Regions from separate parts of the Homo sapiens genome. Here region 1 is linked to region 2. A link means that fine-mapping ties the variant in region 2 to the expression of a gene that starts in the linked region. Tissue or cell type: whole blood. Region 2 holds a variant in brackets; the other region holds the start of a gene. All regions are shown on one strand. Distances are from middle to middle. Region 1 holds the start of CACNA1E (calcium voltage-gated channel subunit alpha1 E). Region 2 overlaps CACNA1E (calcium voltage-gated channel subunit alpha1 E).

Evidence for each region.
Region 1: CACNA1E starts here. The variant in region 2 is fine-mapped to the expression of CACNA1E in whole blood (TOPMed, PIP above 0.99).

What each region holds. Positions count from the first base shown.
Region 1 is chr1:181,480,703-181,486,072 of GRCh38, reverse strand. CACNA1E (calcium voltage-gated channel subunit alpha1 E) reads right to left here and starts at 2,556. Exons shown (of 48, transcript NM_001205293.3): 1 at 2,063-2,556. The coding sequence starts at 2,328. RefSeq lists enhancers at 709-838, 1,801-2,324, 2,325-2,849, 3,652-3,781, 3,833-4,365 and silencers at 3,202-3,331, 3,372-3,501.
Region 2 is chr1:181,549,948-181,555,317 of GRCh38, reverse strand. All of the region lies in intron 3 of CACNA1E (calcium voltage-gated channel subunit alpha1 E), which reads right to left. Among named protein-coding and RNA genes, the nearest start is that of CACNA1E, 69 kb to the right of the region's middle. The variant T/C (reference allele first, on the strand shown) is at 3,071.

The DNA.
Region 1 (5,370 bases), 69 kb after region 2:
AGAGAAAACGTGAAAAAAGGTGACCACGTGGTGTAGGAAACGTGCCTGGTTTCTCAGCTCCAAGGCTGGGCCCGGCCAGAAGTACCCGAGGTGCTGAACCCGGGTAACTGGGGAGCCCCGGGCCGCCGGGAGTTTCAGCGGCGCTGTCCGAGGTGCCAACGATGGCTGCTGGCACACTTTGCCACCCGCGGGGCGGTTGGGCGGCTTTGTCTACCGCAAAGAAACGGGAGGGCGCCTGTCTGAATAAACACGCCCCTAAGAGAGGGGCACAGCAAGGCAGCACCTGGTGGATGGGAAGATTTAGAGAACCGTAGAAGCCGAGTGAGAAAGGAGGGCCCAGCTGGGAAATCCGTAGACTGCCTAGAGGAATATTTGCAGCCGCAGCACACAACACAATGAGATCTGTCCGCTTTGTGCAGCGCACCGGCAGGCGTGACTGCAGGGACCCGACCCCTCCCCCGCCCGAAACCTCCACCCTAGCTAGATACGTTCAACTCAGGCAATGGATGGCCTGGGATCACTCTGTGAGAGTGGAGCAGGGGAGCGGGATGCAGAGAGGAGAGAGGGAGAAGCCCAGCCGGGGTTGCTGTGGGAGGATGCGAACAGCAGCAGGAAGAATATCTGCTTAGAGATGCTCCTTCGTTTCTAATGAGGGGGTGCTGCCTAGAAGCACCACGCGCCAGCCAATCACCGAGCTGCTGAGGCAGGGAACTAGAGAAGAAGGGGAAGGCCAGAGACTGGGGTTGGGGGAGTAGGGAGATGCCCAGGCCCTGGGGGAAATGAGCCGCGTGTCTGGCTAATACTAGAGACCCAAGGCAGCTCCAGCTGCCTCACTGCTGCACACCTGGACGGTGGGGGTGGGAAAGAGGGAGAATAGGGGAGAAAAGAAGGGGCCTCCATTGCAGATGCATCCCTCCCAAATCTCCCTCCCAAAGTCCCATGTCTCCAACCCCATCCCCATATTTAACGCCAGACCACTAGCTTGCCTCCTACTAATCCCCTTCACTGCCTCACCACCCCCAATTCCCAATGGCCTTGCCAGGCGTCCAATCCTTAGTGAAGAACAAGGCAGTGAGCTGCCTAATCAGCAGTCTGCATTTGGTGCACTTGATTAAACCTGCAAAGAAGCTCCTTCCATGCCTGTTCACCCTGACACCACCACCATCAGAGATGGCCCCCACCAGTGCTTTGGGGAGAGCAGTTCCTTTGGAGCTAGGGAGAGAGAGACTGCATGCACACCTCTGGCCTCAGCGGATGAATTCAGGCCCAGCCGATCCACCTGGATCCTGGATACTGGGAGAGCAATCAGCTGGGTCAAGCACTAAGAAGCAAGAGTACCCAACCAAGGACCAAGGACAGGATGGGCCTGATGAGCTGCTCTTTCTTGGCTGAGAGGAGAACTCCAAGTTTGAGCTCCTTGGGCTGTGGCAACAGAGATCACCTCCCCTGACAGACACTCACTCATGCCACTTTCAGTGGAACTTAAACTTAAGTCCCTAGAGTTAGCTGAGTCCCCACCCAAAAGCCTGTTTTATTTATTCATTTGTCTATCTGTACACAGGGTTTTGGCCCTGGGAACTTCTGAACTGATAAATCCCCTCATGGAGCCTTGACTTCCCTACAGGAAGACAGTGCGGTGTCTCCTGGTTGGTGGGGATACGGGCAGAGTGGCTGGCTTAAAGAAAGGAAAATGAGAATTAATTATGAAAGGAAGCATTGGGGCAACCCAATCTATGTAGAGGGCGGCATGTGAAGGGAGTAGGGGTGGGGAGGGGGCTGGGAATCAGACAAAGCCCAGCCCAGAAAGGGATGCACCCAGGGACACTAAAGATTTCCACATAGGAAAAATAAAAAACCAAAAGTCTTACCTTGAAAAACACTAGTGCCCAAACGGGTCTCCACGGCACCAAGCTTGCCCCTTAGATGCACCGAAGAGTGTGCTTCAGCAAAGGGGCAAATTGGCACCAGGAAGGGGTGGGGGATACATTCCATGCTAGGTACCCCCCTTCACCCGAAGAAATGCAAAGGGGGAGAGGGAGTTATGGTGGGCAAGAAAGGATATGGCCAATCGATGAGCTTCTTGGCATATTTCCTGACAATGTTATCTTCTCCGAAGATGAACAGGGATCTGTTGACGGTGAAACAGTTCTGCCGGACGGGAATGGGGTTGTACAAAGCCATAGTCCGCGCCCTCTGTGCTTTCGTCTGCTTGTAGGCGGCCGCCTGCCCCGAGGCCGGCACGGGGGTTCCTTGCCGGTTCCTGCTCTGGTCCGAGTCTCCATCGCCGGACCCTGGCCTGGCGACCACCGCCTCCCCGAAGCGAGCCATCCTGAGGTTTAAACAGACAGAAGACACACAAAGGTGATCGCGGCCGAACACCCGCACACAGCAACAAGCAGAAAGACACACGGAGACTCAGAGCCGCATCCAGACAAGCACGGGGACCACCGCCTCTGGGGAGCTCCGCGAGCTCTTCGGAGAGGCAGCAGCAGCAGCCCGCCGCTGTGAACTGTTGAATCTAAATGCAACCTCTGCGAAGCTCCATTCCTCAAGAAGGAAAAAAAAAAAAAAGAAAAAAGAAAAAAAAAGCGGGTGGTAGGGCTTGGGGGTGCCCAGTTTCTGGAGGAAAATATTTTTTTCAAAATGCCAGTGTGTGGTGGTGTTCAGGGACCAGAGAGGAGAGGGGTGGAGTAGGCTGCTCTTCAAACATAGCTCCTCTTCTGGCAGACGCACCACCTAGTTCAGGGAGAGAGGCAGGCACCGGCCCGCTAGGTAACAGTTTGGTGATTTATTGGTTGGGGGAAGGGGTGGGAAGGAGGGGAAAATGAAAACAAAAGAACTTTAAAAAAAAATAAACAAAGACGAGGACGGGGTTACGATGACATGCTTTATAACGCCAGCCCCTGCAAGTCCATCTAAGAAATTCCACCGCGAAGACTTGGGTCTTTATATCTGCCAGCAGAGACGCATCCAAAGGTTGGAGAAAGAGGGAGGGAGGTGGGGAGAGCGATATTGAGGTTCCTGCGTAAACCGCAATGCCCAAAATCTCAAAATAAGAAGTCGATCCAAGCGAAAAGGGACAAATGACTTCAAAGCTCCTGCGCTTGGGCTAGAAGTTGAGCAGCATCCAGAGAGCAGCGAAGCCTGAGTGCCAGCATCCGCCCGGAGCGCTCGCCACCGCCGCCTCCCCGGATCAGCATGCAACAGCGATCCGCGGCTGCGCCGCCGAGAGGGCGGGAGTGCGAGCGGGCGGGCGGCGAGCACCGGCGGGCGAGGAACAGGTTGCAGCCGAGCCTCGCGGCGGCCTGGCACCACACTTGTCCACAGACCGAACTTCCTCACTAACGGCTCAGTCTCCCTCTTCCCCGCAGGCAGCGCCCTCGGCGGAGCACTGGAGAAGATGCGGAAGGAGAATGGGGAGGCGAGGCAGAGGACAGCGAGCGGCGCGCAGAGGCGCAGCGAGGCGCGCAAGAGCGCTGGGAGAAGCGGGGGAGGAGCTGGCCAGGCGGGAGGGGCGGGGACGCAGCCGGAAGGCTGGAGGTTCCTGGAAGGTGAGGCTGGCTTGCCTTCTTGATTTATGTGGCCAAAGGGTAGCAGCCACCTCTGCAAAGGTCCAGTGAAGAGTCCCCTTTCCCCCAAGTAATGCCGAGAAGAGAGAGGCAGGTGCAGCCAGCGATGCGGCGGAGTCTCCGCAAGAGAGCGAGGGCCTGGCGTGGGGCGCACACGCACGCGCGTCTTGGGTCCCTGCAGAGAGGTGTCCCCAGTGCTGTGCCCTGTTCGGTGCCGGGAGCGGTGCCACGGGCCCGCCGCCGCCCTAGTAAGGTGTCGGGGCCTTTGCGCGCCTAGCGCCATGGCCGCGTCGCCGCTCCTCCGCACCTCCCAGGCTCCACGAACACGGCCAGGCATTTCCAAGTAGAGGGCAGAACCCTCTCCCCATCTCCCCACTTAGCACCTGGGAGGCCCCGTGGAGGAGGCTAGGACCTCTGGGGGTTCCACACTCTGCTGGTGGTGCTGGCTCCTGGCGGGAGCTTCTGCCCTCACGGGGCGGCCTCCCGGTTCCGCTGTAGGAAAGCCCTGCCCGACGTCTCCTGGAAGGGCCCTCCATGGTGAGTTATGGGCTAAAACTACCCTTCTCGAAATGCGAACAATCAGAAGGATCCTCCCGCCCCCCATCCTTTACTCCCAAATAAGCTCCACGGACTTTCTCAAACCCAACCCATTAATGTAGAAAAAAAAAAAAATAGAATTGGTATCTGAGCTGCAGAGGTGGGAAAGGTGGACTCCAAGCCCCAGGGAAAGAGCTCCTGTTTAGCCGCCAAGCCCTTCCCCACAGGTGACTGGTGGTTTGAACTGAGGGCAGGGACCAGCTGTCCCCTCCCATGTCCACACTAGCTGGGGCACACCGTCTTCTGTGTTTTCCTGCCTTGGCTCAACACATAGGCCTCTCCAAATCCTTCCAACCCGAACAATGGAAGGGAAGAAGGAAAGGAGGGGCTGAGGAAGGAAACAGACACTGACCAAAGCCCAGAGGTTGGAAACCATGGGTGAGTATGGCTTCACGCCTGTGAAGTGAGATTAACTGTTGAGAAGTGAGGTGATGTCTGAGTGCATGGCATGTGTGTTTCTACGGGTATGTGTCTGTCTGTGGGCAAGGCCCTGTGAGCACTGACATGTGTCTGTTGTGTGAGAATGTATGTGAGAGTGTGTGTGTGTGTGTGTGTGTGTGTGTGTGTGTGTAGGAAAATTCTCTACTGGAAATCCAAAGGAATGGTCTCAACATGTCCAGCCTGCTGCCCTTGGGGAAGGCATTTGACCTTTGGATTCAGGGGAGCCCATTTCAGGTGAAATTACTATTCAAGGTGAGTCAGCTGTAATTGTTACTTTGATTTCACATTACTGCCTTACTCTGTCCTTCCTCCTGCTTTAATCAGAGGGTCCTCTTCTGTCTGAATACCTAGTCAGTCGTGAAACGGAGGGAGGGTGGTGCTGTGAACCATGAAGTCCCATCAGCCAGTCACTTAGAACTAGTCCCAAGTGGCTATCTCGGTATCCCTGTAAACTACATAGGGTTAGAAAAAGGGCTTTCAGAAATTATTAAGTGTATGTCGCTCCTTTCAGACAGTACCATAATCCATAGCACAAAATTCATTCAAATCATTAGAGAAGTATCTTTGAGTCCCTTCCAGGTGCCAGGCACTGTTTTAGGCACTGAGGATACTATAATGAACAAGATGGGTGATGACATAAATCATGTAGCTTTTTACACTAGATTATACTAGATTGTATAACCTTGCAGGCCAGAAAGCTTCATGAACTTCACTCTCATGCTGTCACCTCACCCCTTTCCTTTGTGGTTCTGCCTCAGCAGGC
Region 2 (5,370 bases):
GGAGTCTGCAATTCTGTTTCTTCCACCTCAAGCACAACTCAGTGGGCAAGAGCTGGTAGGTATACCCCTTTCTGGGTCTAGTGACCAACATTCAGTCATACCTCTGAGTGTCTTATGAATATTTTTTAAAAATCTAAAAGGGGGAGGATAAATTCTGTTAAAAGTGAAACTTGGATAGGAGATAATACTAGTAGGAACACTTAACCATTTTAAATAACAAAAATGGCTCAAGTGTGTCTGCAACTGAAGTCTGAGAAGCACTTTTACACAAACATTCTCCTGTATGAGCATCTCAGCATCTGTGGAAATACTCTGCATAGGGATTATAATCTCCATTTGGAAGAGGAGAAGACCAAAGCTCAAGGTTGAGTGATTTGCTGTTGGTCTCATTGATAAAAAGCTGTCATAGAGCCAGACTTGAACCCAGCCTGCAGCTCCAAATTAAATGCTCACTTAGATCCAGCACTGATAAGACATCCAAACAAGCAGCTTGTGAGAAACTGGGGATAAAAACAGAGGCCTTAAAACCTGAGCAAATGTCTTGATTCCAAACAGAAGACTCTACAGTGATAACCAGTAAGCTCATTGTCAATCCCAGGAGAATTCAGCCGTACGTCAGTACACAGTGTGTGAGCAACGAGAAAGCAGGATGATCAAACAGTGCATGGGACAAGCTTAGCTCAGTGCCTGGCACAGGCTGGGACTCAGCAAATGTGAGGACCATTAGTATCACTATTGGCATTGTTTCTTATTATTAGGAATTAGCATGAGATTTCTTGGAATAAACCGATCCAAGCTAATCTTGTTTCTTTTTTTAAACAGGGTTATTGGACAAACAGACTAGGAAAATGCTAAAGATATGGTACCCTGGATTTCAGCAAGCCCCTTGACAAAAATCTCATCTGCTACACTGACACAATGGTAGATTGAACCCCTGTCAGAGTCTGTGCCATTTGAACAATCATTCCCAAATTATATGGATTACTGAATAACAACTAAATTCAGGCTGGGCGCAGTGGCTCACATCTTTAATCCCAAGCACTTTGGGAAGCGGAGGTGAGAGGATCACTTGAGCTCAGGAGTTCGAGACCAGCCTGGGCAACATGGCAAAACCTCATCTATACAAGAAATAAAACTAAAAAAATTAGCTGGGCATAGTGGAATGTGCCTGTATTCCCAGCTACTAGGGAGGCTGGGGTGGATCCCTGGAGTCCAGGAGGTCAAGGCTGCAGTGGGCTGTGATCTCACCACTGCACTCCAGCCTGCATGACAGAGTGAAACCCTAGCTCAACAAAAAACACTAAATTCAAATACTGACTTTGCTATTTAGAGCCTGTGTGACCTTGAGCAACTTATTTTACCTCTCTGTGGCTCTGCTTTCTTATTAGTAAGATCATGATAATGATAGCAATCACCTCAAAATACCAGTGACTATATCAAAAAACTTATCCACCACGATCAAGTCGGCTTTATCCCTGGGATGCCAGGCTGGTTCAACATACGCAAATGAATAAACATAATCCATCACAAAAACAGAACCAATGACAAAAACCACATGATTATCTCAATAGATGCAGAAAAGGCCTTTGATAAATTCTACATCCCTTCATGCTAAAAACTCTCAATAAACTAGGTATTGATGGAACGCATCTCAAAATAATAAGAGCTATTTATGTCAAACCCATAGCCAATATCACACTGAATGGGCAAAAACTGGAAGCATTCCCTTTGAAAACTGGCACGAGACAAGGATGCTCTCTCTCACTACTCCTATTCAACATAGTATTGGAAGTTCTGGCCAGGGCAATCAGGCAAGAGAAAGAAATAAAGGGTATTCACATAGGAAGAGAGGAAGCCAAGTTGTCTCTGTTTGCAGATGACATAATTGTATATTTAGAAAACCCCATCATCGCAGCCCAAAAACTCCTTAAACTGATAAGCAACTTCAGTAAAGTCTCAGAATACAAAATCAATGTGCAAAAATCACAAGCATTCCTATACACCAATAATAGACAAGCAGAGAGCCGAATCATGAATGAACTCCCAATTCACAATCGCTACAAAAAGAATAAGATACCTAGGAATACAGCTAACAAGGGATGTGAAGGACCTCTTCAAGGAGAACTACAAACCACTGCTCAAGGAAATAAGAAAGTACACGAACAAATGGAAAAAACATTCCATCTTCATGGATAGGAAGAATCAATATCGTAAAAATGGCCATACTGCCCAAAGTAATTTCTAGATTCAATGCTATTCCCAATGCTATACCATTGACATTCTTCACAGAATTAGAAAAAAACTACTTTAAATTTCATATGGAATTAAAGAAGACCCTGTATAGCCAAGACAATCCTAAGCAAAAAGAACAAAGCTGGAGGCATCATGCTACCTGATTTCAAACTATACTACAAGGCTACAGTAACCGAAACACCATGGTACTGGGTATCGAAACAGATATACAGACCAATGGAACAGAACAGAGACCTCAGAAATAACACCAAAATATCCATGTCCCTGCAAAGGGGCCTGTTAGGGGGTGGGGGCGAGGGGAGGGAATTTAGAGGATGGGTCAATAGGTGCAGCAAGCCACCATGGCACACGTATACCTATGTAACAAACCTGCACGTTCTGCACATGTATCCCAGAACTTAAAGTAAAATAATAAATATATAATGATTTTAAAAAATGTTTAGAGCAGCTTTATTCATAATCACCCCAAACTGGAAAACATCAAATGTCCTTCCATTGCTGAATAAATAAACAAACTGTAGCACATCCATACAATGGAATGGAACACTCTAAGGAAAAAAAAAAAGATCAGTGATTAATTGGTTAGACAAGTAGATAGTTGGATATAAAAACAGAAAAAAAAAGCTATGAATACTATTATAATTTCCACCTGCAGGGAGGCCTCTAGAGTTTTGCCACGGCATTCCATCATCATTTCTGTCCATTTCAACGTGTTTCTCAACAGCTTAGATGACAAAATCAAAAAAGTACAAATGTAGAGCCCAGCATCAGCTGCTCATATGTAAAAGATCTGGGAACGACAGAGAATCACAGCCTT[T/C]GTATCAGCCAAGGGTGTGAGGAGGGGGCTACAAAATCATCTCAGACTGTTCACAAACATGGGTGTCACCCTAAAGTCCTCTGCATTGGTCAGACCAGTCGAGTACTGTGGTTCATTCTGGGTGTTATATTTTAAGAGCAATATGGAGAAATATAGGGGATGGGGAAATAACAAGGGGTCTTGAAATAATGTCAGAAGTAGCTGAGAAAAGTATGAATGTTTTGTTGGGTGGCAAGTGGTTGTCACTTTGATGAAAGCTTACACTGCTTTCCTTCTTGGCATAACTTGAGTCAGTGAATCAAATTAGAAGGGGCCAGAATTTTGCCAAAAAAATGAAAGGATGCAAGGAAAGGAGGGGGGAAGGAAAGATGGAGAGAATGAGGGAGGAACGAAAGAAGTGAGGGAGAGAGGAGAAAATGTAAAACCTATTCAACAATGGAGTGGTGTGCCTTGCCCGGTAGTGAGCTCCCCATCACAAGGAGAGTCCAAGCAGAAGCTTGGTGACCAGCTGTCAGGGATGTTGTTGAAGGTGTTGATGAACTGGACGATCTGAAGGGCCTCTGGCCTTCTGTTGTCCTCAGAGTCTATTATCCCAGCCACTCTCCCCTGCACAGAGCTTTTTCGCACACCCCTTCCCCCACCAAGGTTGCTGTGGAGCTCCTAATCCCATGAGCGCCTGCCAAAATTTGGCCTGTGAGATGCATATTCAACAATGAAGGTTTCAGCTGGCTGAGCTGGCGGGTCTGTCTGAAGATTTCAACACCGCAGCAAGTGACCCTCTGGAATCCTAAACAAACTGTCAAAAGCTTCAGCAGCCTGGGCTCCAAGCAGCCTGCATTGAGGACCTCAGCTGCACAGGCCAAACGCTGCATCACCACCCCACCAACCACCCACCATCACCATGGCAACCACTGAGTCTGACTGCCTAGGCGAGGCTCTTCAATCCAAGCAGGGGGAGGCCCAGTTTTTCCTGCAATTTCCCAAAGTAGTGGGCCCTAAGGGGATGCAGGTGGGAGGACCAGAGAGGGAGAGTTTACCTTGTCCTTCCCCAACAGGATGCCCTGACACCACCTGGAGACACAGCCTGTCATCTATAACTTGACCTTGGCATCCTCTAACTCTAAGCAAAACACAGGAGAACGAGCCACTGGGGAATCTCATTATTTTTAGAAGCAAGCACAATCACTTAGCAACCTAAATGTCCCGTTTCTTCCCCACCCCTCCAAAAGCCCAGAGAAATAAATACAGTATTGAGGACTCCAGTGTTTGGCGCTGATACAGCGTAAGGATGTAATAATAATAATACTTTCAATCTATGTAGAAATAAAGCTTGCCTTCCAAGGGGCTCAGAGCCTTGCTAAAATTAAGGCACCGATCCTTTACACTCGGCCTCCCCTCCCTCTCAGTACAAACTGCCCAAAGATGACTGTTTCCCTGCTATCTGACAAGGGACTTTACATATGGATTCTGAGACACGGAACAATCATGATTCCATTCCAGTACATTACTGTCTGCTACCAAAAAAAAAAAGCATTTATTTCTAGCAAGGGAACAGAAAAAGGTCAGGGCTTCTCAAACAAATGCCAGCAGTGAATTCCTCCCTCACATTTGAACCTGGTAACCATTCCCTTCTGGAAACTCTTTCTCCCTCATTTCCCTGCTAATGGTCTCAACCAATCTGCCCCCACCCCTCCTGCCAGCTCCCTCTCAGCCTCCATCCCAGGCCCTCCATATTTTCCATACCCATTTGATTCAGGGCCTCTTGGAGTCTGTCCTTGCCCTCTTCTCTGCCATTTCACTGGGACAATCTGACCCATGTCTATGGTTTCAACTACCAACCATGCAGTGATGAATCGAGGTGTCCACACAGACCTGTCCCAAGCTCCAGCCTTTCTATAGGGCACCACACCCAGTCCAAAAGACACACCCAACCGCCAAAGCCAGAGCCACCCTCATCCCCTCTCCATACCAGACTGCTCCTCATCCAGGGTGAAAAAAGCCACCCTCCCCTACACTTGGGATTCATCTTGGATTCTTCCCTCTCATCCCCCAAGTTTAAAGACCCCTAAGTATTTTTTGTATCTGTCCCCTCCTCTGGTCCCACTGACACAGCCCAGGTCACAGCCCTCAGTATATTCTAGACAGTAAAGATGGTGTCCTAACTAGTCATCCTAGCTCAGCCTCACCCCTTCCTCCCTAATTACCCCCAACACACACATGTACCACCATGGCAAGATTCCAAGGCTCTGAGTGCTGGGAGGTCTATGTAGCCAGGATTCTACCACCCCCTCACTTTAAGC